Homo sapiens: one gene and its partner. The protein of the gene in region 1 purifies or fractionates together with the protein of each later gene. This does not show direct contact. Each region holds a gene or a part of one and is shown on either strand. Other genes may lie near its edges.

Region 1 (15,113 bases):
AGTTTTTAAAGACATTTAAACAATTGGTACCCTTTTTCATTATGAAAATATAAGGCACATGATAGCCAGGAAAAATAGATAAATAAACCATTATGTTATGAATATCAGTTCAATTTTTGTTTGGTACCTAAAAATTTACTAGGATATGCATCAAATTGGATACTTACCCAATTGAGATGCAAGGTGTAAATATTAGTAATATTAGCATGACTTTTAAATGTTTTGTTACATTGTTTTCTAAAAGCATCACTAGAAATATGGATTGCCACTAAAAATTAATAGACCATTAGTTTCTTAGGACCATTCTTTTTATTCTGTTTTTTTTTTGTTAAATAAATATTTCCAATAAAGGAAAAAAGTTGTCTATATTTCAGTTTTCATAAAACAGAATGTTTAAACATTTTTTCTGATCAGAAAAGTAGCCACAAAAACTGCTATATTTTTAAAAGGCTGTGATGAAACAATGCTGCCACTCTGGAAAACAGTTTGGCAGTTCTTTAAACAGTTGAACATAGAATTACCATATGATCCAGCAATTGCTCTCCTAGGTATATACCCCTAAAAATCGAAAGCAAAGACTCAAACAGATTCTTGTACACCAGTGTTCATAACATGTATAGTAGCCAAAATGTGGAAACAACCCAAATATTATCTATAGAAAGAGTAGATAAACAAAACGTGCTCTGTACATATAATGGAATATGACTCAGCCTTAATAAGGAGATTCTGATACAGGGCACAACGTAGATGAACCTTGAAAACATTATGTTAATCGAAATAGGCCAGACACGAACGGACAAATGTTGTATGATTTCACTTAAATGAGGTACCAAGAATAGGCAAATTCATAGAGAAAGTAGAATAGTAGTGACCAAGGGCTGGGAGAGGGGAGAGGGGAAGTGATTAATAGGCTTCTGTTTGGGAAAATGAAACATTTCTGGAAATAGATAATGGTGATGGTTGCACAACATTGGGAATGTACTTAATGCCATAGAATTGTATGCTTAAAAATGGTTAAAATGGTAAATTTTATGTAATGTCCTTTTTTTTTTTTTTTTTGAGACAGGGTCTCACTCTGTTGCCCAGATTGGAGTGCAGTGGCACGATCTCAGATCACTGCAACCTCCGCCTCCCAGGTTCGAGTGATTCTCCTGCCTCAGCCTTCTGAGTAGCTGCAACTACAGACATGCACCACCATTCCTGGCTAATTTTGTAGTTTTAGTAAAGATGGGGTTTCACCATGTTGGTCAGGCTGGTCTTGAACTCCTGACCTTAAGTGATCCACTTGCCTCGGCCTCCCAAAGTGCTGGGATTACAGGTATGAGCCACTGCTCCTGGCTGTAATGTACATTTTTCTATAGTGAAACAACAATGGGCAAGGTGTGGTGGCTCATGCCTGTAATCCCAGCACTTTAGGAGACCAAGGCAGATGGATCACCTGAGGTCAGGAGTTCGAGACCAGCCTGGCCAACATTGTGAAACCCTGTCTCTACTAAAAATACAAAAATTAGCCTGACATGGTGGCACACGCTTGTAATCCCAGCTACTCAGGAGGCTGAGGCAGGAGAATCGCTTGAACCTGGGAGGTGGAAGTTACAGTGAGCTGAGATCACGCCACTGGGCTCCAGCCTGGGTGATGGAGTGATACTCTGTCTCAAAAAAATGAAAAATTAAAAAAAAAACAACAACAACGATAACAAAAGGAGCCAAAATTACCCTCTATCTCATAGACTGCTGGGCTTACGTGAGATAATTTGCATGAAGTGCTTAGCACAGTGCCAGGATCATAGGGAATACTCAGTAAAGGAAAGATAAATGTTTTTCTAATAATGTAGAACTATTTAACTATAGAATGACCTTCTTTGGGGGTGGAATAGTGAGCTCCCTGCTACTGGAAGCGTTTAACAGGGGGCAGAACAGACTTCTTAAAGTTTCATATGCAAAGAAATCATCTGGACATAGTGTTAAAATGGAGATTCTTATTTAAATAGAGTCTGGCTGAGGCCTGAGAGTCTACATTTTTAGCAAGGTCCAGGTGATATTGATGTTGCCAGTTGAGTGCACTTGAGTAGCAGGAGGCTAGATGATTCCTTAGGGGGATGCTGGAGAAGCTATGTGATAATTCATCAGATGGAGCAATGAGATAGATCTCTGCGGCCTACTGCGGGAGCCACTCACCACATGTGGTTATTGAGCATTTGAAATGTGGCTAGTCCAAATTGAGATGTGCTGTGAATGTAAAATACACAAAAATGTAGTATGGAATAGACTAAAATATTTACTTAGTAATTTTTATATTGATTACATGCTGAAGTGATATTTTTGGATGTATTGGGCTAAACACAATATTCAGAATATATATACATATATATATATGTATATATATATTATTTTTGAGGGGGAGTCTTGCTCTGTCGCCTGGGCTGGAGTTCAGTGGCATGATCTTGGCTCACTGCAACCTCTGCCTCCCGGGTTCAAGCCATTCTCCTGCCTCAGCCTCCCAAGTAGCTGGGATTACAGGCACCCACCACCACACCTGGCTAACTTTTTTTTTAATTTTTAGTAGAGATGGATTTTCACAATGTTGGCCAGGCTAGTCTTGAACAACTAACTCAAGTGATCTGCCCGCCTTGGCCTTCCAAAGTTCTGGGATTACAGGCATGAGCCAAAGAATATTAATATTGGGATCGCTTGAGCCCAGAAGTTTGAGACCAGCCTGGGCAACATAGGGAGACACCGTTTCTACAAAATAAAAAATAAAAGCCTAGTCGAGTATGGTGGTGCATGGCTATGGTCTCAGCCACTCAGGAGGCTGAGGTAGAGACTTACTCGGACCCAGGAGGTTGATGCTGCAGTGAGCCATGATAGTGCCATTGCTCTCCAGCCTGGGTGACAGAGATAGACCCTGTCTCAAAAAAAAAAAAAAAAACAACAATGTTTAAAGGGCTATTAATGGAAGGAGATCAAGCAGAATCTAGAGGGTGACACAGGGTTAGAAGATTTTCTTTTTGTGGTAACCTGGGAAGAATATGAAGCTGATAGGAAAGATAAATGGAGAGGGAAGGTGGCTCTCCAGGAGCAGCAAGGAGGAGTGAGTGAGGTCTGCAAGGAGGCATAGGTAAGACTAGGTTCATGCAATATTTACATAAACATATAAAAGATGGAAAAATGTTAATGCTGGTATCTGGGTAGTGGGGATGACGCTTACATTTTACTTACTTTTGTGTGTGTGTGTGTGTGTGTGTGTGTACTGTTTGTTTTTTTGAGACGGAGTCTCACTCTGTTGCCCAGACTGGAGTGCAGTGGTTCGATCTTGGCTCACTGCAACTGCTGCCTCCCGAGTTCAAGCGGTTTTCCTGCCTCAGCCTCCTGAGTAGCTGGGATCACAGGCGTGTGCCACCATGCTCGGCTATTTTTTGTATTTTTAGTAGAGACGGGGTTTCGCCATGTTGGCCAGGCTGGTCTCAAACTCCTGACCTCAGGCCTGCCTCAGCTTCCCAAAGTGCTAGGATTAAAGGTGTGAGCCACTGCGCCCAACCTCTTTTGTGTTTTTATCTTTATTTGTGTGTGTTTAAAATTTTTCTTTTGTGTTTTCCTTTCCCCTCCATGAAGATGCATCACTTTAAAATTGAGGCCAGGCGGGGGAGTATTACTTATTATGAAAACAAAAGCAGAAAATCTGCTTCCCGATGTAGGAGGACCATAAGTTAGGGATAGCCAGCCCACTGACTCCAGCACACAAGGACATAAGGCCACCCTCCAGAAGCACATGACATGAACACACCTATCTCAAGAATTATAGGATAAGCATGTGTGTATGCATGGTGAGGACTAGAAGGAGGCTTTTGACTATCAAGAGTAGCAGTGGATGTTTGGATTTCAGGTAATTGCTACCTTCCTTCCACTTTTGTGTATAGTTTAGTGATTTATAATAACTATGTATTTTTTATAATCAGAAAAAATAGTAAAGCTATTGTAATGTTGAAAACTATATATAGTCTTCACCAAAGAAATTAATAGTCCCAATGTACACTGCACTGATAAAATCACATCTTAGGCTCTCATTCTCCTACTGGCCCGGAAGAACCAGTGGCCATATTGTGAGCTGTCTGTGGAAAGGGTCACGTTGCAGGAAAACAGGGGCAGCCTCAGCAGCTGAGAGTGGCCTCTGGACAACAGCCAGAAAGAAACTGAAGCCCTCAGTGCTACAGGTGCAAGGAAATAAATTCTGCAACAATCTGGGTGAGCGTGGAAGTGGATTTTCACTCAGTCAAGTCTTAAGATAAAAATACAAGTCTGGCCGACACCTTGATTGCAGCCTTGTGAGATCCCAGAGCACAGGACCCAGTGAAGTCATGCCTGGACTCTTGATCTACAGAAACTGTGAGACAGTACATGTGTGTTGTTCTAAGCTGCTGAATTTGTGGCAAATTTTTAATGCAGCATAGAAAATTAACACACACTCCTACTAGCAGTATGTGAGAATTTGAGATACTTTACATCCTTGCCAATCCTCAGTCCTTTTAACTTTGGCCACGCTGGTGGGTGTGTATTGTGATTTTAATTTTAATTTTCCTGATGAATAATAATGTTGAACACTTTTTAATATGCTTATTGGTTATTGGATATACTCTCTTATGAAGTGCCCCGCAAGCATTTTTCCCATTAAAAATTTGAGTAGCCTATCATTTTATTACTGTTTTAGGAGTTCTTTACATATACTGGATATGAAATTTTGTAGGATACATGGATTAAAAATCTACCATTGTGGGGCTTGCGTTTTCACTCTTCTTAATGGTGACTTCTTTTTTCTGGGGGGTGGGGGGGATGGAGTCTCACTCTTGTCGCCCAGGCTGGAGTGCAGTGGCGCAATCTCGGCTCAATGCAACCTCCGCCTCCCAGGTTCAAGCGATTCTCCTGCCTCAGCTTTCCGAGTAGCTGGGATCACAGGCGTACGCCACCACACCTGGTTAATTTTTGTATATTTAGTAGAGACGGGGTTTCACCATGTTGGCCAGGCTGATCTCGAACTCATGACCTCAGGTGATCCACCCGTCTCGGCCTCCCAAAGTGCTGGGATTACAGGCGTGAGCTCCTGTGCCCAGCCAAAAAAAATTTGAGGCTGGAGCACAGTGGCGCGATCACAGCTCACTGCAGCCTTGACCTCCCGGTCTCAAGTGATTCTCCCACTTCAGCCTCCGGAGTAACTGCGACTACAGTCGTGGCTAATTTTTAAATTTTTGGTAGAGGCGGGTGTTTCCTTATATTGCCCAGGCTGGTCTCGACCTCCTGGGCTCAAATGATGTTCCTGCCTCGGCTTCCCAACTATAGTATAGATGAGAGCAACATAGCATAGTGGTTAAGAGCAATCCCAGCTCTGCCATTTTCTAAATTACTCTCCTAACCTTTTATGGCCTGTGTTCTCAACCGTCAAAGGGGAAAAATAATAGTACCTGTCTTATAGGGTAGTTAGGAACACAAAAAGCTCTTGGCATCACCCTTGGTACATGGTAGGTACTGCACAATGTCAGCTAATATTATCGTCATGTGTGCTGCCTGGAGAAATTTTTAAGTGGAAAACAAAACAAACAAACAAAAACACAGGCCAGACGAGGTGGCTCACGCCTTTAATCCCAGCACTTTGAGGGGCCAAGGCGGGTGGATCACCTGAGGCCAGGAGTTGGCGATCAGCATGGCCAACATGGCGAAACCCCGTCTCTACTAAAAATACAAAAATTAGCTGGGTGTGGTAGCAGGCACCTGTAATCCCAGCTACTCAGGAGGCTGAGGCAGGAGAATCGCTTGAACCTGGGAGGTGGAGGTTGCAGTGAGCCGAGATCGCACCACTGCACTCCAGCCTGGACCACAAAGTGAGACTCTGTCCAAAAAAAAACAAACAAAACCCAACAAAATAAAACAAGGTGAACTAAAATGAGAAATATCCTTTTGGAAGAACATAGTTCCAAATATTTATTCATTCAACAAATAACCATTTAGGGCCAACTTGCACTGACTTTTCCTTATAACACATAAGCAATAAACCCTATTATTGCGTACTCTCGCGTGATTAGGGAACGTTGTTAAGAGGCTCAAAAATCGGACGTCATAGCTCAAAAATCGGACGTCATAGCACATTGGCTAATGGAATCACCCAGGGGCTTTGCGGTTTCCCCTTCCAGCAGCCAGAGGGGCCAGAGTCGGAAGCTGGGGGTCGGACTCTTGGCATCTTCTGGTGGATTATGAGGTTTGGATTAACTGGGATTTCCCGTTGGTGTTTTTCTGCCTCATCTGTTTAGCTTTTTGTGGTCCCCTTTTTGGTATCCAACTTGCTCTTTCTTAAGTGAAGTTTCTGATTAAAGCAAGAGCTTCGAGTAAGGGGTCTGACCGTAATTTTTCACTGGTTAATGTCTGACGTCCAGTAGGTGCTGTCTGGATCATTCTCCGTCCCTCCCTCCCTTCTTTCCCTCCCCCCCTTCCTTTCTCTCCCTTTCTCTTTTCTTTCTCTCTCTCCCTCCCTCCTTCCTTTCTCTTTCTCTCTCTCTCTCTTTCTCTCCTTTCTTGGATGGAGTCTTGCTTTGTCACCCAGGCTAGAGGGCAGTGGCGTGATCTCAGCTCACTGCAACCTCCACCTCCGGGGTTCAAGTGACTCTCCTGCCTCAGCCTCCCGAGTAGCTGGGACCACAGGTGCGTGCCACCACACCCAGCTAATTTTTTTGCATTTTTACTAGAGACGGGATTTCACCATGTTGGCCAGGCTGGTCTCAAAACTCCTGGCATCAAGTGATGCGCCCGGACCCTCAAAGTGTTGAGATTACAGGCGTGAGCCACCGCGCCTGGCCTTGAACTTTATTTTCTCATTGAGCCCAGGCACCTCACTAAATTCGGCTCACCCCTATGTCTCACTTTCCTACTTTTGTTTTGAAGCCTTTGCCCCACCCCCTCCACGTTGCCGCCTTTTTCGTACTGAGCGCGCAGGGCACTACGCCCACCACTCCCCTTGACCCACTCCTCAAGCCCTGATACCGGGGCGAGGCCCCTTCCTTTTCTAGTCCTTCTACGCGCCAGGTGGGTGGGTTTCGCGGTGACGAGGCGACACCTCTTTCCCCTCTGGCGAGCACGTTAACTGGGGAAGCTACCAAATTCTCACGCCTTAGCTGCCCTGCCTCCACCTCCCGCAAGTCCGGTTGCCCCTCTAGGCTTCTGCGCCTGCAGTGGTTCCGACCCTCGCCTTTAGAACTCTGCCGCTTCCGCCTCTTATTTCGCGCCTTTGTTTTTAGTTTTGGAAGGGGCGGAGTTGAAATGGCTGCGCCGCGGTTGCCGAAGCAACGCTTTGGTTACTTCCGTTGGTTTCAATGCTTCCGGGTTGGCGCTGCAGTGGCGTTTCCGACTGTGGGAGCCTCAGCTTCCCAGTCGTCCGATGAGCCCGAGCAGGTGAGGGGGAGCTCCTGGACTTCCAGGCTGGGGAGCGGGGCTGGGCCGCGCCAGGCCGCGCGGGGCCGGGCTGGCCTGGTTCCCGGCCTGGGAGGGGCTTAACGGTCCTCTGGTCTCTCTCTCCCCTCAGCTGAGTCCCTTCCCTGTCTTTCACTCTTCTGGCATCGGTGGTTTTACTTCTTCGATTGAACCCTGCTTCCTCGACCCCCCTGGGAGGCCGCCTTCTTCAGGCGCCTCCCTTCTCTCCACGAGCTCGCTCTGACAGCTGAGGAACTGGCAAGATCCTGCTACCCAGAGGGTGAATGGGTATCTTTCCCGGAATAATCCTAATTTTTCTAAGGGTGAAGTTTGCAACGGCGGCCGTGATTGTAAGCGGAGTAAGCAAACACCTCCATTGTATTAGTGTAAGGGATACTGTTGAAAGATGCTCCCCTTCGGTTTCTACCCCCTGTCACTCCTGAGGTCAAGGCATTGAAGGCATCTATTAAAATGCAGTTCAGTTACTTGATTGGCATGACAGCTGTTATCAACATGAATTAGTTTCTCAGACAGGATAACAGCAGGGACATTTATGGTTTCCTGTCAGTGATTCCTTGTTGTTGTTGTTTTTCCCCCCAGCCTAGAGATGCCTAGCGTTATCATGAACTCTTCCCTCGTCTTCATTCCCTACATCATCGAGTTCTTTGTGTCTTCATTGGGGAAGTCTATCTCTAACCTCAGTGCCAACAAGCATCTTTGTCTGCTGTACTTTGCACCATCCTAAGCTAGTCTCCCTGCCTCTCCCGTTTGTAATGTAATCCACTGTGTTTGCTGCAGCCCTAATAGGCTAAAATGTGGTGGATTTCCTCAAGTCACTTCGTTGTTAAACACACACACACAAAACATGCAGCCCCCTCCTACACCCCCTACCCCCACCCCTTGGTTTCAAGCCTTTCAACATAACATGCTCCTTATCACACTTCTTGTCTGATACTGTTTCAGTCAACAAGGGAATTCTCTGTTCCAGTTAGGTTCCTTTCTTCTTGGCACAAACCATACTGATGCCTGCTTCTACATGCTGTGCTTGTTCCCACATTTGTGTTTCTGTTCATTCTCTCTTCCCTGCCCCTCTCCCTTACCTGCACCTAACCAGGTTGTACCTACCGTCTCTCAAGGTTCAATTTAGGTTCTCTCACCTCGGCAATTTTCAAATTAGTCAATCCCATGCTGGTTGTAGTCTTTTCTATGCTCCTCTTGCTCTTAAAGTTTGTACTACACAGTTTAGTACTTAATTTTTCTCTAACGCACTACTTTGATTTCTTCCACCAGATTATAAGCTCTTGAAAGGCAAGTACTGTATTTCGTACTTTTTTCTCTGTCCCATCTCATTGGTTATTCAGAAAAGACAGGTTGAGTGGTAAATATTGTCTTGGTGCTAGAACGAATATCTGTGTTTTTCAAATATGATTATACCCAAAGTGCATTGCAGGTTTGGGCATTTAGCATGCCTTCAATAAATATCTGCTTGGCTCTCCATTGTTACCTTCTGAATCTGAGAATCTCTAATTTCTACTCTTTCTTAAAGGAGAAAGCAGGAGAGGCACCCAGAGTTTCCTGACCAGATCTTGGGAGTAGTATAGGGCAATGTAACTTGTATTGTAGGACATTCTTACTTTCACTCATTAGTCTATCAAATTCTCCGAAGTCAGATCTTCAGAATAAATGTTGGCATTTTGAAGACAATTTTCATTGGTTTCTTTATACAGTAAAAATATTTAGGGTACTATATTTTTATTTTACCTTAGATATGACTACTTTTACGCATATTTGGGGTTAGCCCCTACAAGTTAAAATAATTTTTAGAGGGCTTGGGGTATTTTACATAAGTAATTCCTTGGAACAAAAGCAAGGGAACAGGGTTCGCAGGCAGAGAATATCTGGGGATCAAGATAGTGTCATACACAGGGTGTGTAGCATTGGCCAGGTCCAGCAAGTTACCTTCCTTGTTTCCTCTGCAATCTTTTATATACAGGCTGCATACATAGGTAAAGGATGTCACACTGCAAAACCAACTAAGTATTGAATGGATATGTATTCAATTCTATGCAAGCTATAATGGGGGTTATAAAAAGTACTGTGAGATATAGTATCTTCCCTTGGGGATCTTACTTAGTTAAGAGAGGAAATAACATTGGACATCTTGAAGTTGACCCTCATCCTAGTCATTATTTTTATGCCTGAGATTAAGATATAGAAGGGATAAAAGAAGGTTCAAAAAATATTGCACACCTGTAGAATAGGTGTGACACAACACGCATGCATGTAGACAACTTTATGTAAAAGACTTGGAGGTTTCAGCTGACAGTTTAATGATTTGATAGTGTGATGTGGCTCCCAAAAAAGTGAGTGCAATTTTAAGCTCTAGTAATTGAAGTATAATGTGTCAAATGAAGAGAAAGATCATGGATATTTAGCTCAAGAAACATGAGATGTAAGAGAACATCATAGCTGTCTTTAAATATTTGAAGGGCTTGCCTAGGGAAAAAAGAATGCATTTGTTGAATATTACCTCCAAAGACTGGGTACAAATTAGAGGAAGACAGACTTTTGGCTCAATATGAGGAGGGAGTGTCTAAAAACAGATCTAATCAAATATGATCCAGGATTTCTTCATAAGATTTTTTCCTAACATTGGAGTGAAAGAGATTTTACTATCAGATGGGGGTAGGGAAGTCGTGATTGTGGCAATGGTGGGTTTTGCCTGTGGTCTCCAGATTTTTGGATTTCATGGGCCAGTAAAATGTAAATGAAAATGTGGGAAGGGTACACAAATACAGGCTAGTTAGCCTGTGCTCCAGGCGTAAGAAGAATCTGATCTGTTAATAATAGACAGTCCCTAAATTAAATACATTTAGCTGAAAAAAAAAAAAAGGACTAAGTGTCCTTATTTTTTTCATTTCGCCCCAGAATTGTGGGAACTTCATTAGGGAACCACTGGGCTAACTGGCCTAAGATTCAGCGACTGGTCTTTCATCTTCCTGCCATGTCCTCCCTGTTCCTTGCCTTTCACTGATTCATCATTGCTCCCTGAGCACATTTTCCTTATTAAAGGGCTGGTAGCAGCTTGTGAAGTTCCGATAGAGGCTTTCTCTGTAATACAAAGAGTTGAAAAAAGTTGTAAGGAGAAAAAGTTTTGGAGAGACAACTTTAAGTAAAAGTAGCTGTCTGAAACCTTTAAGACTATTTGGGGCAATCGATAAATTTGTGAATGGAGAGTTAATTTTTTCCTCACAAACTCAAAGAGGGGATATGCCATGGTCTTGCTTTTCCATCTCTACTCTCACCATATGTGTCATATTTTACTATCAATTCTAATTGGAAAATGTGGGCATAGCTAGAAATGGTGATAAGGTAGTATTTAGTCTTCAAGACTCCTATTTCCAGCTGCAGTTGATACTTGAAGTGGCTATTCCTACTTTGCTCATTAGAATTCTTTTCAACAACTTTCCCTCAAAAGGGCTATCTATCCCAGACTCTATATGTGCTATGCTTGAAAGGAAGCCTCCATAATGATTTTTGTGGCCTGTAACTAAAACATTTAATCAGCGTGTTTGCTATCTTCTCTGGAAAATTGTATTTTGCTTAGTTACAGAGAATTCCTTATGTGGAAACAAAGCAAAACCTTCAAAGGGATACTGTGACTCATAGCTGCTAACCCCAGACTGGGCAATGGGAGGGAGGGGTGGGCAGCAAGTAATATCTGTTAAGATGTAAATTTGGGTACTTAAATTTTTAAAAATGTAATAATGATAGTTAACTAACAATTATTGAGCTACATGCCAGGCACTTTTAAAGGTGTTTTTCATATATTATTTAATTTTCACAACAACCCTATGATATAGTTTTTATTATTAGTTCCATTTTACAGTTCAGAAAGTGGAGGCATAGAGAGATTAACTTGCCCAAGGTCACAGAACTAGTAAGTGGTGGAGTCAGGAAATGAATCTGGAGTTAGCATTTAAATTTTAACAGTCTGACTTCAGGAGTCTGCATTCCTCACCATAAACCACTTGGAAGTTGCTTTTGAAATTCAGAAGTATACATACTGTGAAGCTCTGAAAAAGGAATATTTGAAAGAAATCTGAGAGTCCATGCTAAGAACAGATACTACTTTCAGATGGACCAGGATTTAGTAGGCAATGCCTAGAGCAGTTCTTAAGTGTGGAAGTATCAGCGTTATTTGGGATCTTGCAAATTCTCAGGGCCATACCACCAATCAGAAACTCTGGGGGAGAGGCCCAACAATCTATGTTTTAATAGACCTTCTAGATGATTCTAATACATGCTAAAATTTGCAAAACCTAGAGGCCAGAGCTCTGGAAAAAATAAAATCCAAGAGAGAGCAAGCTGACAGTGGCAGAAAAAGAGAGTAAAGCTGAAAAGATTGATGATGACAGGTCTAACGGGGGTGGGATAGGGAAGGAGAAAAGGGAGGCTGGGAGCAGAATACGTTGTTAAAGAACTAGAACATAAAAGAAGAACAGTATTTATATGTGTGTGTTTTAAAAGGCCAAGAGGAAGGAAAAGGAGATCCACTAGATGGATGTACGTTAAATGTCAGAGGGAAGATAGACATCATATTGCTATCATTCCTTTGGGCGCTAGAAGGAAGGTGAAAAAGTTCTTAGCTCAGCCTGGGCCTAGTTGGGGGGACAAAGTTATATATAGCTAGAAACCCTATAGTAGAGAGATAGGAGGGCTAAGAATATGAGAGAGTAGTAGTGTGAGCCTGTGCTTTGCACCTGAATCAAGCTAACTGAATACCATGAACTGCTTTTATGAGATGCCTCAGCCTATATAATTTGAATTCCGGGTTCCTTCATTTGTAATTATCTAGTTGAATGTCAAAGTTGGGTGTGCTGGATGGACTGAAGCCTCTTCTCTGGGTGGGGATGAATATAACATTAAAGAAACTGGAGAGAATGAAGGGCACAGGTTGATCTCTGAGTGAATCACACGCCTACCCCTACAAAATGTCAGTAAAGAACAAACTCATGATCATCCAGCACATAAAACAGGATCCCCCATTTTTGTGTCATTCCACTTGGTGGGGTTTTTCTTCTACATCTATTTTATTTGCCAATTTTGTTTATCTAAATTATATGATCAGATGCTAACAAATGCTCCTCACTCTTGTGCCTTGTTCTGATTTGTGTTTATTTTTAGCACCAGAAAAGTACCACTGTAAGTCATGAGATGTCTGGTCTGAATTGGAAACCCTTTGTATATGGCGGCCTTGCCTCTATCGTGGCTGAGTTTGGTAAGAATGTGAGAAATGACAAATCTGCATTATACGGTATAGATGGTAGCTTATGATGATGGTTATTTTTGGTGAAAGCTAGGTAAAAAATAAGAAGCTCGCCTTATTTTGAAAATTGTCTCAAAGCCATGAAGTAATATTTCAGGGAAAGTACTACTGATGGTATGGCAGATGAGTTAAGAAAAGTCAAACTAAGGAAAGCTTTTTTGGTAGTTTAGTGATTTGTTAGTTTGCTAGGCTTAAGTAAAATACATGAATATATAGAGGGAGTTGATATGTCATAAGGGTTTTTGCTATATTTCTGTATTAATAGTCTTTTATGCTAAATTATTTATAAGTTTATTTGTACTGAAAGTCCTTTTTTTCAAACCTCTTTCCCATTTTAGAAGAAAATGTACTAACAAGATCAAACAAGATTCTCTTCTACATGATTTTGATTTTGAAATATTTTTAGATTGTCGTTTTTTTCATCTTCCAGATGTTCTCTTTTCTAAACTATTCATGAGTGACTACTGACGTTCTTGGCATATCCTGTGGTGTTGTGATATTTGGGTCATCAGTGACCAGAGCTACCTAATCACCTTGTTAGTTTTACACCCTGAAATATATTTTGTCAATGTGATGACCACTTCTGTTTGTTGATGTAAGAGGTTTGGTTAAAGAAATTTCCCCCCCAAACACTCTGCTGGTATTAGTCCTGAATTACCTAAGGGACCAGGATGAGTAGAACCAAATAAGACTTTGCCATTATCTTTCATAATATTAGGGGACTATTTGTTTCTTGTAAACAGATAAAAGAAAAACCCCACAAAACTTTGTAACACTATATAAGAGCATCTGGAGCAGCAATCCCATGCTTTCCTATCTTTGTGAAAATTTAGGGAGATTTTATGAGACACAGAGGTGGGGAGACTTGGGGTGGGAAGGGGCAGGAGGGAGACTGATAAATGCCAGATTATATGTTACAGATGAAATAAAAAACAACATTTAATTATTTTGCATTTATAATAGGGCAATCTGAAAGCATTTTATTATATTACAGTTTGAAGTATATTGTGGGTCAATTGGTGCTGCCTATGTATAGTATAATGCATTTCACTTACCACATGCAACTCATGTTCTCTGACAGTGGTATTCTACTAGAGCTCTTCTATGTGTTATAAAAAGGACTTTGTCTTAGGATTCAAATATTGTCCTTGGCTTATATTTAGCAACAACTTAACTGTGATTCTTTGGACATACTTATAAATAAGTGTGTTCCTTTATAGGGACTTTCCCTGTGGACCTTACCAAAACACGACTTCAGGTTCAAGGCCAAAGCATTGATGCCCGTTTCAAAGAGATAAAATATAGAGGGATGTTCCATGCGCTGTTTCGCATCTGTAAAGAGGAAGGTGTATTGGCTCTCTATTCAGGGTGAGACTGGTTCTTTCCTTATATCATTAACAGAAATGCTTTTTAAAGAAGCCATAGTTTTCAGCTGTCTGATAGTTTGTGTCCGTTTCATATTCACCATTTCAACTTGTAATTCAGTATTGATATGCCAGTTTATATTTCTCCTGCTTGTAAGTCTTGAGCTTTGGATTTTGTGTTCATTTGGTTATAAGTGATAATAACATTTTAAAATGGATATGTCATTGCAGCATAGGCTTTCTGTGGATTTCCCGAGAGTCACTAATAGCCACTGTTAATAACAGCACCAATTAATTATATATATTTTTGTGATATCCCTCCTGAGTTGGCAAATTCTGACTTCCTTTAAAATTTTCCTCTTTGAAAAAATATTATTCTTGCAGTTTAAACAGAAAGTGCATAATGAGAGAGAGGGAGACCCATCTTTATCATCACCTTTTGATTAGCCATAATTTTGTGGTTTACTGTCTAGTTTGTAGTTTATCTGTTGCCAGTTTCCTAGGCCACTCCTGCATCTAGGCTACCAGTTTATTACTCAGAGAATAGACATCAATTTTATTGTTAAACTATGTTACATCGTTAAACTATGTTAGACTTAATTTAAAAGGTAATTTTCTTGGGGGAAAAATCAAGTAGTGTATCCTGAAGCATCCTGAAGATGATCCACCATCCTGATTTGTGGATCATCTGTTTCACCTTGTTCTTTCATCAGCATAGATCATCACAAGATATTTTCTGATAGCAAGCAATAAAGTCAGAAATATGCATATTTAGTCATCATTTAAAAATCCTAACCATTTGAGCTGCTGCTGTCTTTCTATTTATACCTCCTACAGTATAGTTCTGCAATTTGGAAGAATCCCAAAGGAGGTATGAATGAGAATGTCTCCAGTTTAAAGGAGAACTTAAATAGGGTGGAATTTTGGCTCTAGTACCTCCTTGTTGATGTGATTAAAGACGTATCTGCAAC
Region 2 (14,876 bases), on another chromosome or scaffold:
CATCAGAAGGACTGCCCCCAGGAGCCAGAGGCAGCACGGAGCCAGGCCAATGAGGGGACCCCACCTGGACGCCATCGCCACCCAGGGCCAGACCATGGGGCGGGCTGCAGGGTGTGGGCCAGGTGCTGGGAGGGGCAGGGGCAGGGGCAGAGGAGGAAGTGAGGTCCTGGCTCCAATCCAATCCCCGGGCACCACGGAGGGCTCTGTGTCCCCAGGACGGCCGCAGGATGGGGACAAGCAGCTCACAGTCTGCAGAGAGACACAGACACATCATTAGCAAGACTCAGCAAAGACTTCCCCAAGCACGTCTATCCTGCAACATGAAACATATCCTCGATTCACAGGATCCAGACATGTGGCATCGCCTTCTCCAGACCACACGTGGCACTGCCTTCTCCAGACCACACGTGGCATTGTTTTCTCCGGGCCACACGTGGCATTTGTTTTCTCTGGACCACACGTGGCATTTGTTTTCTCCGGACCACACGTGGTGTTTTTTTCTTTATTTTTAGAAACAGGGTCTTGCTCTGTCACCCAGGCTGGAGTACAGCGGTGACCACAGCTCACCGTGACCACGAACTCCTGGGCTCAGGTGATGCTCTGGGCTCAGGTGATGCTCTCGCCTCAGCCACCGGAGCAGCTGCGACCACAGGCGTGCACCCCCACGCCCAGTAATTTATTTTTATTTTACTCTTTGTAGAGACGGGTCTCGCTGTATTGCTCAGGCTGGTCTCAAACTCCTGGCTTCAAGCGATCCTCTTGCCTCAGTCTCCCAACGTGCTGGGATTACAGGCGTGAGCCACTGTGCCCGGTCTTTTTTTTACAGACACTGAGTTTTCAGCCCTGTCTCTCCGTCTTTCCATCTCTCTCTCGAGCTGTCAGCACCTCCAGGGGCTAACCTGTCCCCATCGCCCAACACCTGCAGCACAGCTTTCCTGTGGGGCCCGGCTCTGTCCCTCCTGGCATCATGCCACTGACCCATGGGGTTAGGGTCACTCTCCAGACCCTGACTTGAACATTCTTGAGATCTATGACCTTAGCTAAGTCATGTGGCCTCCCCGGCCTCAGCTTCTCACTAAGAAACAGGAGGCTCCCCCTCTCCCCCCGACTGACCAGGCTTTGCGAAGACAGCCAACCCTAAGTGCAGAGGGCGTCAGGGCCTGGTCCCAGCAAACAAACACACAACCCCCACACACAGATGTGCACACACACATCCACACTCACGCATGCACGTATTACACACATGTGCCCTTGCCCACACTCGCGAGCGAACGCCAAGGCCGAGGAGCCCAGAAGTCTGTCCTGCCGTCCGAGGCGTGGCCAGTCCTGGTGGGAAGCAGGGGCTCACAGGGCCTCATGCCTCATGTATCCCAAAGGGAACTCGGGGTCCTTCTCACCCACGAGCCTACTCCTTTCACAGTCTGCCCCTCCGGCAAACACCTGCGGGTCCTTTCGGGTGCCGCTGAGGCCCCGCCATGTCACAGCTGTTCCCTCAACACACATGGACTGAGACTCCTGTTCTGTGGCCGTCTTATTCAGCTTCACTGTTCTGGCACCTGCCACTCTGCCTGCACACAGTAGGCGCTCAACGAATGCTACCCTGGGTAATATTAAACGAAAAAATGCTGCCTCCAGGTATCGAGAAACACCAGTGGGGCCGCCATGAAAGTGGTCCTGAAGTCAGTGCAGTCTGCCACAAACCAAGAGGGGTACAAGCCTGAGTTCCCCCAAGGAAGGAAACCCTGGGTGAGGGGCTCATGTCTGATTTTTTTTTTTTTTCTGAGACAGAGTCTCACTCTGTCGCCCAGGCTGGAGTGCAGTGGTGCAGTCTCGGCTCACTGCAACCTCCACCTCCCAGGTTCAAGTGATTCTCCTGCCTCGGCCTCCCAGTTAGCTGGGATTACAGGCACCCACCTCCACTCTCCACTAATCTGTATTTTTAGTAGAGATGGGGTTTTGCCATGTTGGCCAGGCTGGTCTCTAACTCCTGACCTGAAGTGATCCTCCTGCCTCGGCCTCCCAAAGTGCTGGGACTATAGGCGTGAGCCATGCACCCGGCCTGATTTTCTGAACATGGCTGAGGGCTTTTCCCTTCCCTAGTGGTGGCATAATTCTATTCCTGTCGTCCCAGATCGCCTGACCAGGGGAGAGTCCTGGATAAGAACCAAGACACCTCCTCCTGGTGCTGACTCCACTAACTACAGTCGTAAAACACACGCTGTGTGCAAAGAGACTGTACTTTGTTCCTAGAGAAAATAAAGCTAGTTCTTGATTCTACATATCTTGATGAGTTACACGGTTTACTTGAGGCAGGAGGATCGTGAGACCAGCCTGGGCAACACAGTGAGACTGCGTCTCTTTAAAAAACAAAAACAAAAAGATAAGACCCTGTCTCGAAAAAGGGGGAATAAAAAGTAACCCAAAAGTAACTATAAATATCAGGAGTCCATCAAGTGGCGCTTCCTCTCCTGGCTTCAGAGTATCTATTCATCACGGTGTGCCAGGTTCGCAGCACAGCGGAGCGGGCCGGTCCCACCGGAATGGGGTTTCGACTTCGCCATCCCCTAGCAGCTCAGTTCCCAGCAAGGAATCAACACACCCTTGCAAAACGGACGTGGGAAACAGCTTAGGCAGAGACGCTATTTCTTTGCCATCCCTGGGCTTCAGCTCTGGTGGAACGAGGCTATTTCTGGCAGTTAACAACACACACGGTTAGATTCTAAAAGCTCAACAGGGTTCATAACACCGCCTCTGAGCCAGACATCAAGGGCTCCACACAGCCGACTTCACATCTCCAAATCCTACTAACTGGGGATGAGGGTCCACGCGGTTCAGAAGCGGAAGCGCAGGCGCAGGGAAGCGGGGCAGCTTGTCCAAGGTCGCCTCGCCGATAAACGCGAGTCCAACCAGACCCCTTGGGCCTCCGTTTCCCGGTGGCATTCGTAGGTTTTGGCCAGTAGGAGACCAGACGTGCCGGCGGCCGGGGAGGCCAGCGTCGTCGGCCTGTCCCTGCCCCCGGGAACCCCGGGAGCCCCGGTGGCGGCGGAGTCTCGCCAGGGCTCAAGGCCGAGCGGACGGACGATGCCCCAGCCCAAGGCGGGAGGCGGCGGCGGCCTCCAGACCCGCCCTCGCCGTCCGGCCGGCGTACACTTGGCCCCGCGGCCTGCAGCGGCCGTCCCGGGCCCCTCACTCACCGGTCTGCCTCCCCGCGCTCGGGATCCGAGGACCGGAGCGAAGCGTCAGTGACGCCGCCAACGGGCCCGGATCAGGCCACTGCCATCTTTCTTGCGGGCGGGGGCGGTGCGAACGGGCGCGACCTCACGGAGGGGACGCCGGCGCCACCATCTCTCCTCCGGGCGGAAGCGGTCGCGGGGCCGCTCCGAGGTTGACCAATGACAAGGGTGCCCGAGGCCACGTGACGGCCGCCGATTGGCCGCCGGCCTCCGAGCGCCCCGGGGCTCGGCGTCTGCGGAAGGCCCCGGCGCGCTCCCAGGAGCGCCGTGCGCACGCGCACCGCCCCGAGCCGGCGGCGCCTGCGCACTCGCGAGTCCGGCCTGGGCCGCCGGCCCGGCGCGGGCGCCATGAAGCTGCTGCGGCGGGCGTGGCGGCGGCGGGCGGCGCTAGGCCTGGGCACGCTGGCGCTGTGCGGGGCGGCGCTGCTCTACCTGGCGCGCTGCGCGGCCGAGCCCGGGGACCCCAGGGCGATGTCGGGCCGCAGCCCGCCTCCCCCCGCGCCCGCGCGCGCCGCCGCCTTCCTGGCAGTGCTGGTGGCCAGCGCGCCCCGCGCCGCCGAGCGCCGCAGCGTGATCCGCAGCACGTGGCTTGCGCGGCGCGGGGCCCCGGGCGACGTGTGGGCGCGCTTTGCCGTGGGCACGGCCGGCCTGGGCGCCGAGGAGCGGCGCGCCCTGGAGCGGGAGCAGGCGCGGCACGGGGACCTGCTGCTGCTGCCCGCGCTGCGCGACGCCTACGAAAACCTCACGGCCAAGGTGCTGGCCATGCTGGCCTGGCTGGACGAGCACGTGGCCTTCGAGTTCGTGCTCAAGGCGGACGACGACTCCTTCGCGCGGCTGGACGCGCTGCTGGCCGAGCTGCGCGCCCGCGAGCCCGCGCGCCGCCGCCGCCTCTACTGGGGCTTCTTCTCGGGCCGCGGCCGCGTCAAGCCGGGGGGGCGCTGGCGCGAGGCCGCCTGGCAACTCTGCGACTACTACCTGCCCTACGCGCTGGGCGGCGGCTACGTGCTCTCGGCCGACCTGGTGCACTACCTGCGCCTCAGCCGCGACTACCTGCGCGCCTGGCACAGCGAGGACGTGTCTCTGGGCGCCTGGCTGGCGCCGGTGGACGTCCAGCGGGAGCACGACCCGCGCTTCGACACCGAATACCGGTCCCGCGGCTGCAGCAACCAGTACCTGGTGACGCACAAGCAGAGCCTGGAGGACATGCTGGAGAAGCACGCGACGCTGGCGCGCGAGGGCCGCCTGTGCAAGCGCGAGGTGCAGCTGCGCCTGTCCTACGTGTACGACTGGTCCGCGCCGCCCTCGCAGTGCTGCCAGAGAAGGGAGGGCATCCCCTGAGCCGCCGCGGCCCGGCCCTCCGGGACACCTGCTTCACCCGGCGGCGCCTTGGGGCAGGTGCCGAGCGGGCGCACTACGCCCGGGCCCCAAGGCCCCCGTCCCGCAGCCACGCTTGTGGTCGCTGCGTCCCGGTCTGCGTTTGGGAGACCCCTGGGGGTTGCCGGGGCAGCGCGCCGTGTCCAGGTGGAGGTGCCCGTTCCTGGACCTCAGCGAGCCTGAGCCGGGCCCGGCCGCACGCTGACCCCCGTGCTGTCCCCGACCGGCTCACGGGGCTGGGCTCCGATCTTCCGTGTCTCTTATCAGTGGCGTTTCTCACGTCTGCGTCTCAGATCTAACGTGGTTTCACATCAATCCGCTTTCATGGGATTTTGGTCTCTGTCCAGTGACTTCGTGGTAAATGTAACTCAGTGTTTGCTTGCGACTTATTTATAAATATTGTAAGTTTGTGTCGATGAGTGTAAGTTGGCAGTGCGCACGTCTCGGTTTTTTTACATGATTTAAGGAAAGACTTTTATGTCAGAACTTGGTGCCTGTACCGTCAACCCCGCTGCTGCCCGTGTTTAAACGCAGGAGAACTTTAAAACTGGCCATCTATCTTTTCAGTGTACAAGTCACTGAACCCATTGTTTCTTTCTGAAGAGACTTTCCTTTCAAGGCTTCCCATGGGTCCGCGCCACACAGGGCCGGTGCTGCTTTATTTCAGACTCTGCCCCAGGTTCCAGGAATCCGAACCCCGGAGTGCTGACGCGGTTCCCCAACTTCCGCCTTAAGAAAACAGGACCAGCCGGCACCAGGCCCGTCTCTCACGTACTTTAACACATCCTTGAAAGCCCCTCGTTTAATGAGAAAAGCGAACACTGCGGTCCTTGCCAAAGTAAAATGAAGCTGCCCCAGGACAAGGGGTTACCATGAGCTCCCTGGAGTCCGACGCGGGTTTTCTCTCTGGGGGACCTGGGTGGTCCCCGCTGTGGTCTTTGTTGTCCCACTTTGGGACCGGGTCCAGTCTGGGGTCTAGTCTCGAGCATCAGGGTCAGGCTCGGGGCAGGGCTGGGTTAGGCTCCGGGTCAGTCTTGCCATGGGTTTGGGAGCAGGTTTGGGTTACTTGCGTTTGAAGGCAGCAGTGGTCTCAGGAGGAAGAAACGGGGGCGGGAGAGAGTGGTGATCTGTGGTCAGTGGGTCAGTGACCTGCACGGTGATTCTCCCACCTCCAAAAGGTAGGGGTGGGACTGGAGGCGTCCCTAGGTCAGGCCGTTGAGTTCGAGCTCCGATGGGCCACCTTGAATCCAGGACTGACCGCCCGTGTGTGCACAGTTTGTTCTTGGACGAGGACTCGTGAGGATCGAGGGCTGGGGACCCCGGTGTGAGCAGGATGGGGCCCTGCCCTCCCGTGGGAGTTGTGGACTCGAGCCCAGGGGCTGCCCGTCACAGCGGTGTCCCAGGTCCCTGCCATCCGATTTTACCTGGGATGTCTTCTCTGGAGTTTGGAATTGCTTGAGGAACCCTGCGTGTGCTTGGAGAGGCCAGAGGGCTTGCTGAGAACCCCATGGACAGTGGAGAGCGGGATTCGAACCAAGGGCTGGACTCCCACACCTCTGGCCTGCGTCGCCCAGTTCTTTGTGGCTCTGAAGAATTGGCCGCTGTGGAAAAGAGCAAATGTCCGAGACCCCCAACAGGAAGAGTCTAAAAATCCAGTTTGCAACCACTTCTGACCTACAAAAAAATGGAAATTTAGTGTTTTTCAGCCTAAGACATTAAATTTCATATCAGAACAAAGCCTGCCCCAGGCTGACCCTCCCCAGCCGTACCGTGGTGAACGGGTTCAGAGGATACGTGGGCTGAAGGCTGGGCCTCGGGAGGGCTGGGGGCTTCCAGAGCCGGGGCAGCTGCAGCTCTCTCTGGTCTCACCTGGAACTTGCCCTGTAGATCCTCCCTGCCCTGCGGCTCCAATCGACCGTGCACGGGCCGTGGCATCCGTCCCCCAGGCGTCCTTCCCTGGTCTTAGCTTGTACAGCTCCCCACCCACCCAGGTACTCGGTTCCCGGAGACCAGGGCCAAACCAGGAGGCCCTCGGGAGATGGGGGGTCACCGAATTCATTTCCATGTGGGAACTTGGGATACAAAACAGCCAACTCTTCCTCAGCCACACGGATGTTTCTCCTCTAGTGGCCCCGAGAACCTACCATGGAGGGGACAGTGTCAGGGCTGGACGGGCACGGCGCAGCCACACGCACACAGCCCCCAGGAGGCACAGGGCCGGCAGGGAATGCAGGTCAAGCCAAGAGGATGGGCTCTGGTCCCTTCAGGATCCCCCAGGAGGAGAGCACCCCCTTCTGCCCTCTTCCTGGGGACTATGGTCCTGCCTCTCTGCCCCCTGAGGCTGGCATGCAGGCACCTGACGTTGGCTCCAGCTCTCTGGGCCAGCCCTGGGTACCCGCCGGGCCTGTGGCCTGGTTGGTCACCCCCAAGATGCAAAGTGCTACCTGCATCCGGAGGCACCCCCGCCCCTGAGGCCTCCAGGTTCCCACCTGCCCACCTGTGTCTGGCTGGGATCCTGGCTGTCAAGGCTCCTGTTACGGGACTGAACTGTGCCCCCTAAAAGATATTCCAAGCCCTAACCCAGCAGCTACAAACTGACCTTGTCTGGAAGTCGGGTCTCTGCAGGTGGAATTGCGTTAAGGCAAGGTCCTGAGGTGGCCTTACTCCCACGGAACTGGTGTCCTTACCAGAAAAGACCTGGGAAAAAGCCACTGTGTGGCTAGAGACTGACACCCAGGCGATGCCTCTGCAGGCCAAGGATTGAGGACCCTCCACCCCCACCCCACCAGGCAAGGAAGGGCTCTACCCAGAGTCAGGAGCGTGGCCTCCAGGGCTGCGAGGGAAGACGCCCCGTCCAGCAGCCCCAGGATGCCAGCCCAGTTCCCTGTGCCCGGCGCTCTTCGGTGCAGACGCAGGCAGGGGCTCCTGCAACCTTGTGGCATCACAGACGCCCAGCACTGACTGGGCCCAGATCTCCTCCCCGCAGGGCTCAGCACACACCCTGTTCCCGGCAGGCCTCCATCAGTCCAGCCTGCAGCAGGGCTGCCCCCGCGGCCTGGGTCACCCCAGACTCTTCCACCCTCTCCCTGGCTGACTGTCCCAGCTCAGAGTCCTCAGGTCTAAGGGGGTCACGGCCCTCCTGTGGCCCCACCGGCCCCAGGCTCCCCAGCTGTGGCACTGTGAGACCAGCTGACGTTGCAGGAATGGAAGCCCCAGCGGCCCAGACGGCTTGGGGAGTCCTCGGGAGCAGGTGGCCAGAGACAGGTGCGTGCCAGGCCCTCCGCACCCAGAGCGGGGCCGGGAGGAGAGAGGAGGCCCCTTGTTCGCGCAAGGCCCTGCTTCCTGGGCCCACAGCAGCCTGTCAGAAGTTTCCAGCTCCTTGGACTGGCTGTGTGGGGCCTGCTCCCTGGTTTCAGGGGCCTGGGAAGGGCTTGGCGCTTTTTCCTGGTTTCCTACTCTGAGGTGAGCTGGCGTCTCCCTCTCCCACTGTGGGCTGAGGGGAAAGACCTCTGTGTCCATCCCACAGGCCTGGCCAATCTCTGGGGTCCTCAAAGAGGAGGCTTTTGAGGGGGCACAGCCCAAACCCCTGGGCCTCCCCTTGAGGTCTCCTCCCAGCCCCCACCCAGAGGACCTTCCCACAGCCTTGGGAGCTGAAACCCAGGCCACCCCATCAAGTTGGCCTCTGTGGGTGTACACACTCCTTTCCCTCAGGGCCAGGGTGGGTCCCCACCCCCAGCACTCACAGCCCCTCCTTCTCTGGCCTCCCTGCCCTCCGCACCCTCCCTGCTAGATGCTGGTGCCGCTAGCCCTGCCCTGATGGCCACACTGCACCACGCTGGCCAGGTCAGAACCACCCGAGGAGAAGAACCAAGATCTGGCCCCACCCTGTCCTCCTCGGAAGGTCTCTCTGGGGCCCACCCCCTCCTCCCTCCCCAAGGATCTGAGCCTCCCTCACCGAGGTTCCCAGTGGAGGTAGACAGTGGATGAGTGATCCCAGGAGAGCTGGCTGCAGCCAAGGGGCTGAAGGGAGGTGGAGGCGGGAGGGGCAGGAAGGAGGATCTGGAAGGCCCCAGGCGCTCCCCACCCATCCAGCCTCGGCCTCTGTCCTGGTCGCGTTGCCCAGCGAGGCCTCTCCTTGGGCTGGGGCTCGGGTACTCTGCCCTGGTCGGGGCCACAGATGCCGCAAAGTCCCCTCAACTCAGCTAGCCAGGGTGCAAGACCGCGCCCACAGCTGAGAAGCCAGGGGTTACGAGTGTGGCCCTGCCAGGACCTCCTCAGCTGCATCCTCCAGAGTAAACACAGGTGGCCGCAGATCTTCCAGGGCCGGCCGGGCAGGCAGGACAGGAGCCCAGGAGGGCCGCAGTCCAGCTCCCCTCCCCGCTGACCCAGGGCCGGACCCAGCCCGGTGACTGGAGCAGAAGGAAACCCAAGCCCCAGGCCCTCCCTCCGGTGGCATCCGAAGGTCTCAGCGGCCCCAGCCTCCCCCAGGGGCCCCGCACCCGCCACCGCCCACCTCAGACCGGAGAGAGAGTGAGGGATGGGCAGAGCCAGGCCCAAGTCCCCGCCGGGGCGACGGTCACGGTGCCTCACCCTCAACCGCCTCACCCAGACCTTCCGACCCAGGAACAGCTGAACTCAGCCTAAAAAGCACCCGTCCCGAGGGCCTGAGTCCGGCCGTGGTGCCTCCTGCTGCAGAGATGTGTTTTGCACACTCCTGTGTGGCAGGGAGAGGCCCGGGCGTGCGGGCTGGGGGCCCAAGGGGTCTGGAGACGCTTCCCTGCGGAGACGGGGTTTGCCCAGCCCCCACCTGTCACGCTTCTCGTCACCCCCAAGTGAGGGCCGTGGGCGCGGGCGGGGTGGGCAGGAGGCCCTGCTGGGCTGGGTCACACGCATGACACCTGGCTGTCGCAACACAGATATCATCACGCCCGGGCACCCGTGAGTCACTGGCCCAGAGCAGGGGCTGCCCCCAGCCTCCCAAACAAAGACCCTTTGTCCCCAGGCCTCTGGTGCCAGGCCCACCTGTACAGCAGTCAGATGCGCAGGCGGACAGACACGCCGGTGGCTCGGCAGGCACAGGCAGGGCCAGGGCGTGTTCCCGCAACCAGACACGCTGCCATTCCTGGGTCAGGGTCAGGCTGAGGGAGACCCCTGGGGGACAGGCCCTGAGGTCACCATAGCTCAGAGTGACCTGAACTGGGAGTCCAAGCACAGACTGGCCAAGCCCAGCCCGTGAGCGACGGCCCCAGGACGCGGCGCCGAGCTCTGCCCCCAGCTCCAGCTCCCAGCGGCGTCGGAGCACAGCAGATCCCAGGGCAGCGCTCTGCAGGCAGGAAAGAGCTTCCCCTTGGGACAGCGCGCTGAGCAGCCCCCAGCTGAGGGTGGGAGCCCCGTCCCTGGACCCCTTCACGCAGTTCAGGGAGCCCCACATGCCGAAGCAGCCGTCACAGCTCCATGGGCCCCTCTGCTGTCCCTGGCAGGACCGAAGCTATGTGGCCTCCCGGACGCCAGGGACCCCGGCCACGCCCGCTCCAGGCACTGAGTGGCCAGCCAAGCGCTCGGGCCCGGGGTCCTGGACGGCTGTTCTGGGTTTGTTCTCAAGGGGGCCGTGCTGCTGGCTCTGTAGAGAGTCCCAGTCCCAGGGCAGAGACCCACACAGATGTGCAGACACGTGGGCACACACGCACCAGTCGCAGGGACACACAACTGTCAACCCGGGGTCAACACGGGGCACCTGGGTACATAGATTTTTACAAAGCAGGGCAGGCAGGTCTGTTTGGACCCTACACAGCCCCTACATGCCCCCAGGCCATTCTTGTTCCAAGGCCCAGATGACAGTGGTCACCAGGTGTGGTGTGGTCTGGGGTCTGGGACAGGCCCCAGGAACGCCCTGGGCTTACTCCAGAGAGGCTGGCAGGCAGTCCGAGGGGCCTTTGGAGCAGACACCCTCCCAGCTGCAGGGCGGCAGGGGCGGCAGGGGTGACAGAGGCGGGGAGAAGGATGCGAAGACAAGATGCCAAAGCTGGGCCTCCAGCGCCTGCCTGTCCTGGCTGCAGCCCCAGGGTCCACACCCAGGCGCCCCCAGGGGCCAGGCCAGGGCAGCCGCATCTCCTACGTACCCCAACAGTGGGGCCCTTGAGGCACCGGGGACGGATGGGCAATGGTGTCCACACCTGACAGGCGGGGCCGGAGCGGGGCCCAGCCTCCTCCTCACAGCCAGGAGCCCCCAGCCCTGCCTCCCCTGGCTCCTGCTGCCCCCTCAGGGTGGCTGCCGCACCTGGCCCCAAGAGGACTTCCTGGCTGCCCTGAGCTCCCGTCCGCATTTCTGTCCATTCAAGACCAGGACAGCACCAGGGCTGGGAATACTGGCTCCGACCCAGCCGAGGCAGCCCCGGGGCAGGGTGGGTCAGGCAGGTCCAGCGCTGGGACTCTAGGGAAGGGCTGGTCCTGTGAGCAGACGAGCTGGAGGGTTGGTGGGGGGAGTGTCCCCGCACCGGGCATGGCCCCTCCCAGGATGGCAGGGAGCCCACGGCAGGAGTGTCCGATGCCCCCAGCCCCGGCCAGGCAGCAGGGTCGGCCTGCGGTTCTGGGAAGTCAGCCCTGGTGGAGGTCACGGAGAAGCCGGCAGCTCCCTGCCGCTCAGGGCATGGGGTCAAGGGTCAGGGGTCAGGGGTCGGGTTGAGGCCGTCCGGCACGTAGCCGGCTGCTCTGGCTTTGCTCCTGCCAGGGTCCACGAAGCTGCCAGACGCTTGGGACACTCAATACCCCAGCTCCCAAACCGGGGGGCACAGGCCTGAAGAGATCCGTTTCCCTGGGCTCCCCAGGTCCCCCAGCCAGCCCAGACCCCAAGCAACAGCAGCTCTGGCTGGCCTGCACCTGCCCCGGGGACCCCACGCTCCGGCTGGGTGAGTGACAGGCATCTCCCACCCTCGTCAAGAGTCCAGGGTCCCTTCTATGGCAAACATTGCAGTGTGGGTCCAGCCCAGGAGGTGAGGCTGAGAGAGAATGAAGGGGTGCAGCTGGGCTGGGCCAGAGGATGGAGCCTTGGCTGGGTGGGCTGGGAGCCTGGACCCTCCTGTGAGGCCGCCCACCCCACCCCGACCTGTCCATTCCTTTGCTCCTGGGTGCCCAGAGGGGGCTAGAGATGGCACATTCCAGGGGAATTGCGGCTAAGTGGCTGATCACCTCCCACTGGGGCAGAAACCAGGAGGCAGAGGCCAGGGAGGTGGTGCCAGCACCAGGACATCCCCACGCCCCCCATTCACCCTGGCCCCAGCCCCCCCCATTCACCCTGGCCCCCATGCCAGCCCCCAGCCACCCCCGACCAGCCCCCATCCCCCACCTCATTCACCCCGGCCGTGGTCCCTGCCCCAGCCCCCGCCGCCCCCATTCACCCGGGCCCTGGCCCCCAACTCATTCAGCCCCGGCCCCCCGCCCCACCACTCCACGTCTCTTTGTCTCTCATCACCATCTTGCTCTACGCGGCCCTGGGTCCCATTTCTGGCATGTCCATCTGTCATCACAGCTCCTACCTCCGGGACTGGGTAGGGTGGGGGACTGGCTGCTGCTGAAGAACCTAGAGGGCCCCCATTCCCGGATGGTGAGGCCCCAGGCGGTGTTCAGAAAGGCCTGGCTGGGTGCTGCCTGATCCTGGGTGCCTGCCCCCAGCCCGTTCTTGCCCAGGGTTGGCCCGTCAGTTTGGGGAGGAGCCACTGAAAACTGGAAGCAAACAGGGGAGTCCGCAGCCCAGGGCTCACGCCAACCAGGAAGGTGCAGGCCACGCTCCTGCCTCTGCCTCCTCAGGGCCCCCACACTGCTGTCCCCGCTGACCCAGCTCCAGGAGGGCCCGGCACAACCTTGGTTCCCCCTGTACAGATGCACAGCTGCCCGACTCTCTGGAAGGGAGCACTCTTGAGTGCTGTGGCCAAGCAGGGCAGGGGCTGCAGAAGGGAGACCCCCCGTTCCAGATCCAGGCCCCAGGGGGCAGGCCGTGCCCACAGAAGGGGTGCTGAGGGCAGAGAGGAGCCCCTAAGCCGGGGCCACAGCCTTGGCAAGTGAAGCAGAGGCCCCTCCAGACAGCCCCAGCCCCTGACGCCACTCTGGGGGGCCCAGGGAGAGAGGTGGGGACGGGTCACCACCCAAGCCCACCTCGTGCCGATTGGCGCCTGCCCACACACCTCGTCGCAGGGCTGGGCTGTCCCGCCTCACTGCCCAGCAAGCCTTGGGGAGGGCCCCTTCTGTGCCAGCCCCGGCAGCTCCAGGTCCCAGGGGAGGGGTAACAGCCGTGGGCTCTGGCCTCTTCCAACCTCCCCAACCCCACCAGCGACTAAGGGCTCTGGATGCCAACCAGAGATGGCATCTCCGCAGCTCAGCAGAGGCCTGGACGTCCTGAGGCCAGTTTACACTCTTTGGTGTGGGTTTGCCAGAGCCAAAATGGGGTGGGGGTGGGGCCCAAATCCACAGGACCTGCCAGGGAGCAGCAGCATGATGGTCACATATGGGGCCCACCCCACCCTCCATGGGGCAGTTCTGGCCCCTAAGGCCCCCGAGAGGCCCTGGTCATTAGAGTGCGGCCATACCGAGAGCAGGCGAGGAGAAGCCTGCTGGTTCCAGCCCTGCTCCACCTGGGTGCCCCGGGCACGGCACGGTCTGGGCGCACCTGAGCCCGCAGGGGTGCCTTTCAGCTCCACACGCCTGCGGCGGCCAGCACATGCAAGCACGCGGTCCCGTGTGTGGCATGCACGTCCTCTTGCCCTGCACAGAGCCCCCCACAGGACGCAGGCCTCCCGAGGGCCCAGAACAGTGCTGCTCTCCAACCTCTGGGGCTTCCAGTGCCCCACGGCCTGCTGCTCCCCCAAGGCTGGACAGGCCGTGGGCAGAGCTGAGTGGGGCCGGCACGGACAGTGGTCCTTGTCCTCAGGGTCGACGTGGCCCCTGCAGGGGCTACCAGGGCAGCGCCCAGCCTCTTGCCATCACCATAATCCCGGGCCAGGTAAGTCGGCCCCGAGGGAGGCTCTACGGCCCATACCCCAAGCTACCGGGCTCCCCTGTGAACAGCACCCTTCTGCCCCCACCCATCTCCCGCCGACCTCGGCAGCCTGGCTTCCACCCCCAGTGAAACATCCAGGCAGCACTCGAAGGCAGTGGGGAGGGTGGAGGGCTCTTTATTGTGGTGACCACGGGCATCAGTAGGAGGGTCCCCGGGATCCGGCGGCAGCTCCTCGCCAGCCCCCCTGGGCGCCCTCACGTGCCCAGGAGCAGCCCGGAGAAGCTGGAGCCCGCCTGGATGGTGAGGACGGCCCCGGAGCCATTGTCCACAAACACAGAAGCGTACTGTCCAGCCTGTAAGAAGCACGGGGACGTCACAACCGCAGCCACAGCCCAGCCACTCGGTGGCCAACGTCTGCCCACCTGCCCTGCGCTAGGAGGTGCCGAGGCCCCAGAGGTCTGCGCCCTGAGTGCACCGAGCTCACACCCGGCCCAGCCCGAGTGCACCCGAGCCCTCCCGCTCACACCCGGCCCGGACTCACCTGCAGCTGCAGCAGCCCCTGCACCTGTAGCGTGAAGACCCTGCTGTTGCTCTCCAGGCCTGAGACGGCCTCCAGGCACCTGAACACAGCCCCACAGGGCAAGAGGGAGGCGTTGCAGGTCCAGGGGGCCAAGACCTGCTCCAGTGCCCAGAGACCCCTGTGGCCTGTGAGCCCCTCCAAGGGTGGTCCGGGGGCTGCCGCCTGGAGCGGGGGCTGAGGTCACTCACGTGTGGCGCTGGCACAGGGACTCAATACAGATGAGAACACACACCACGTCCCGGGCCCGCAGCCGGGCCTTGCCCTGCAGCTCACTGTGGTCTGCGGAGAGAGCCCTGGGGAGGGTGGTGCATGGGGGGCGGGGTGGGGGCTGGTGGGGAGGGGCTTCAGGGCACACATCCCAGGACAGGCCCAGGAGTGGCTGCTGGGGCTGGGGAGGGGGCGCCTGAGGCCAGGCGTGCAGCAGGGACCCCATGCCCAGTCCAAGGCCCCCCATGGGGCAGGGGATAGGTCCCTAACAGGACCCGCACCCGGGGCCGGCGATGCCAGGCGCCCCCAGAAAGCTCAGCCCCAGCCCCGTCACAGCACACGGCACTGCCCCATCCGGCTCACCCACGTGCAGACTGGCAGAGAACTGGAAGATGCCGGACACGGGGGCCGTGAACCGACCCGAGGCCAGGCTCAGACCGGAGCCTCGCAGGAAGGCACCTTGGGCAGCAGGCTGTGAGGGGCAGTGGGTGAG

Evidence for each region.
Region 2: the proteins of SLC25A14 (region 1) and SDF4 purify together in Homo sapiens (affinity purification with mass spectrometry; 2 studies listed by BioGRID and IntAct, with this or other methods). This does not show direct contact.

Annotation. Positions count from the first base shown.
Region 1 is NC_000023.11:130,332,546-130,347,658, forward strand, and holds the start of SLC25A14 (brain mitochondrial carrier protein 1 isoform 1 precursor), read left to right. Parts: upstream 1-7,373; 5' UTR 7,374-7,417; coding exon of another isoform or gene 7,418-7,431; intron 7,432-7,561; 5' UTR 7,562-7,733; coding exon 7,734-7,808; coding exon of another isoform or gene 7,809-7,835; intron 7,836-12,636; coding exon 12,637-12,730; intron 12,731-13,998; coding exon 13,999-14,146; intron 14,147-15,113. UniProt on the Homo sapiens protein: Transports inorganic anions (sulfate, sulfite, thiosulfate and phosphate) and, to a lesser extent, a variety of dicarboxylates (e.g. malonate, malate and citramalate) and, even more so, aspartate and glutamate and tricarboxylates.
Region 2 is NC_000001.11:1,228,698-1,243,573, forward strand, and holds the start of SDF4 (45 kDa calcium-binding protein isoform 2 precursor), read right to left. Parts: upstream 3,305-14,876; 5' UTR 3,195-3,304; exon of another isoform or gene 2,810-3,194; intron 250-2,809; 5' UTR 97-249; coding exon of another isoform or gene 76-96; coding exon 1-75. Other genes in the region: B3GALT6 (beta-1,3-galactosyltransferase 6 precursor), read left to right, coding at 3,582-4,571; C1QTNF12 (adipolin), read right to left, coding at 13,851-13,949, 14,138-14,216, 14,365-14,455, 14,747-14,855. UniProt on the Homo sapiens protein: May regulate calcium-dependent activities in the endoplasmic reticulum lumen or post-ER compartment. Isoform 5 may be involved in the exocytosis of zymogens by pancreatic acini.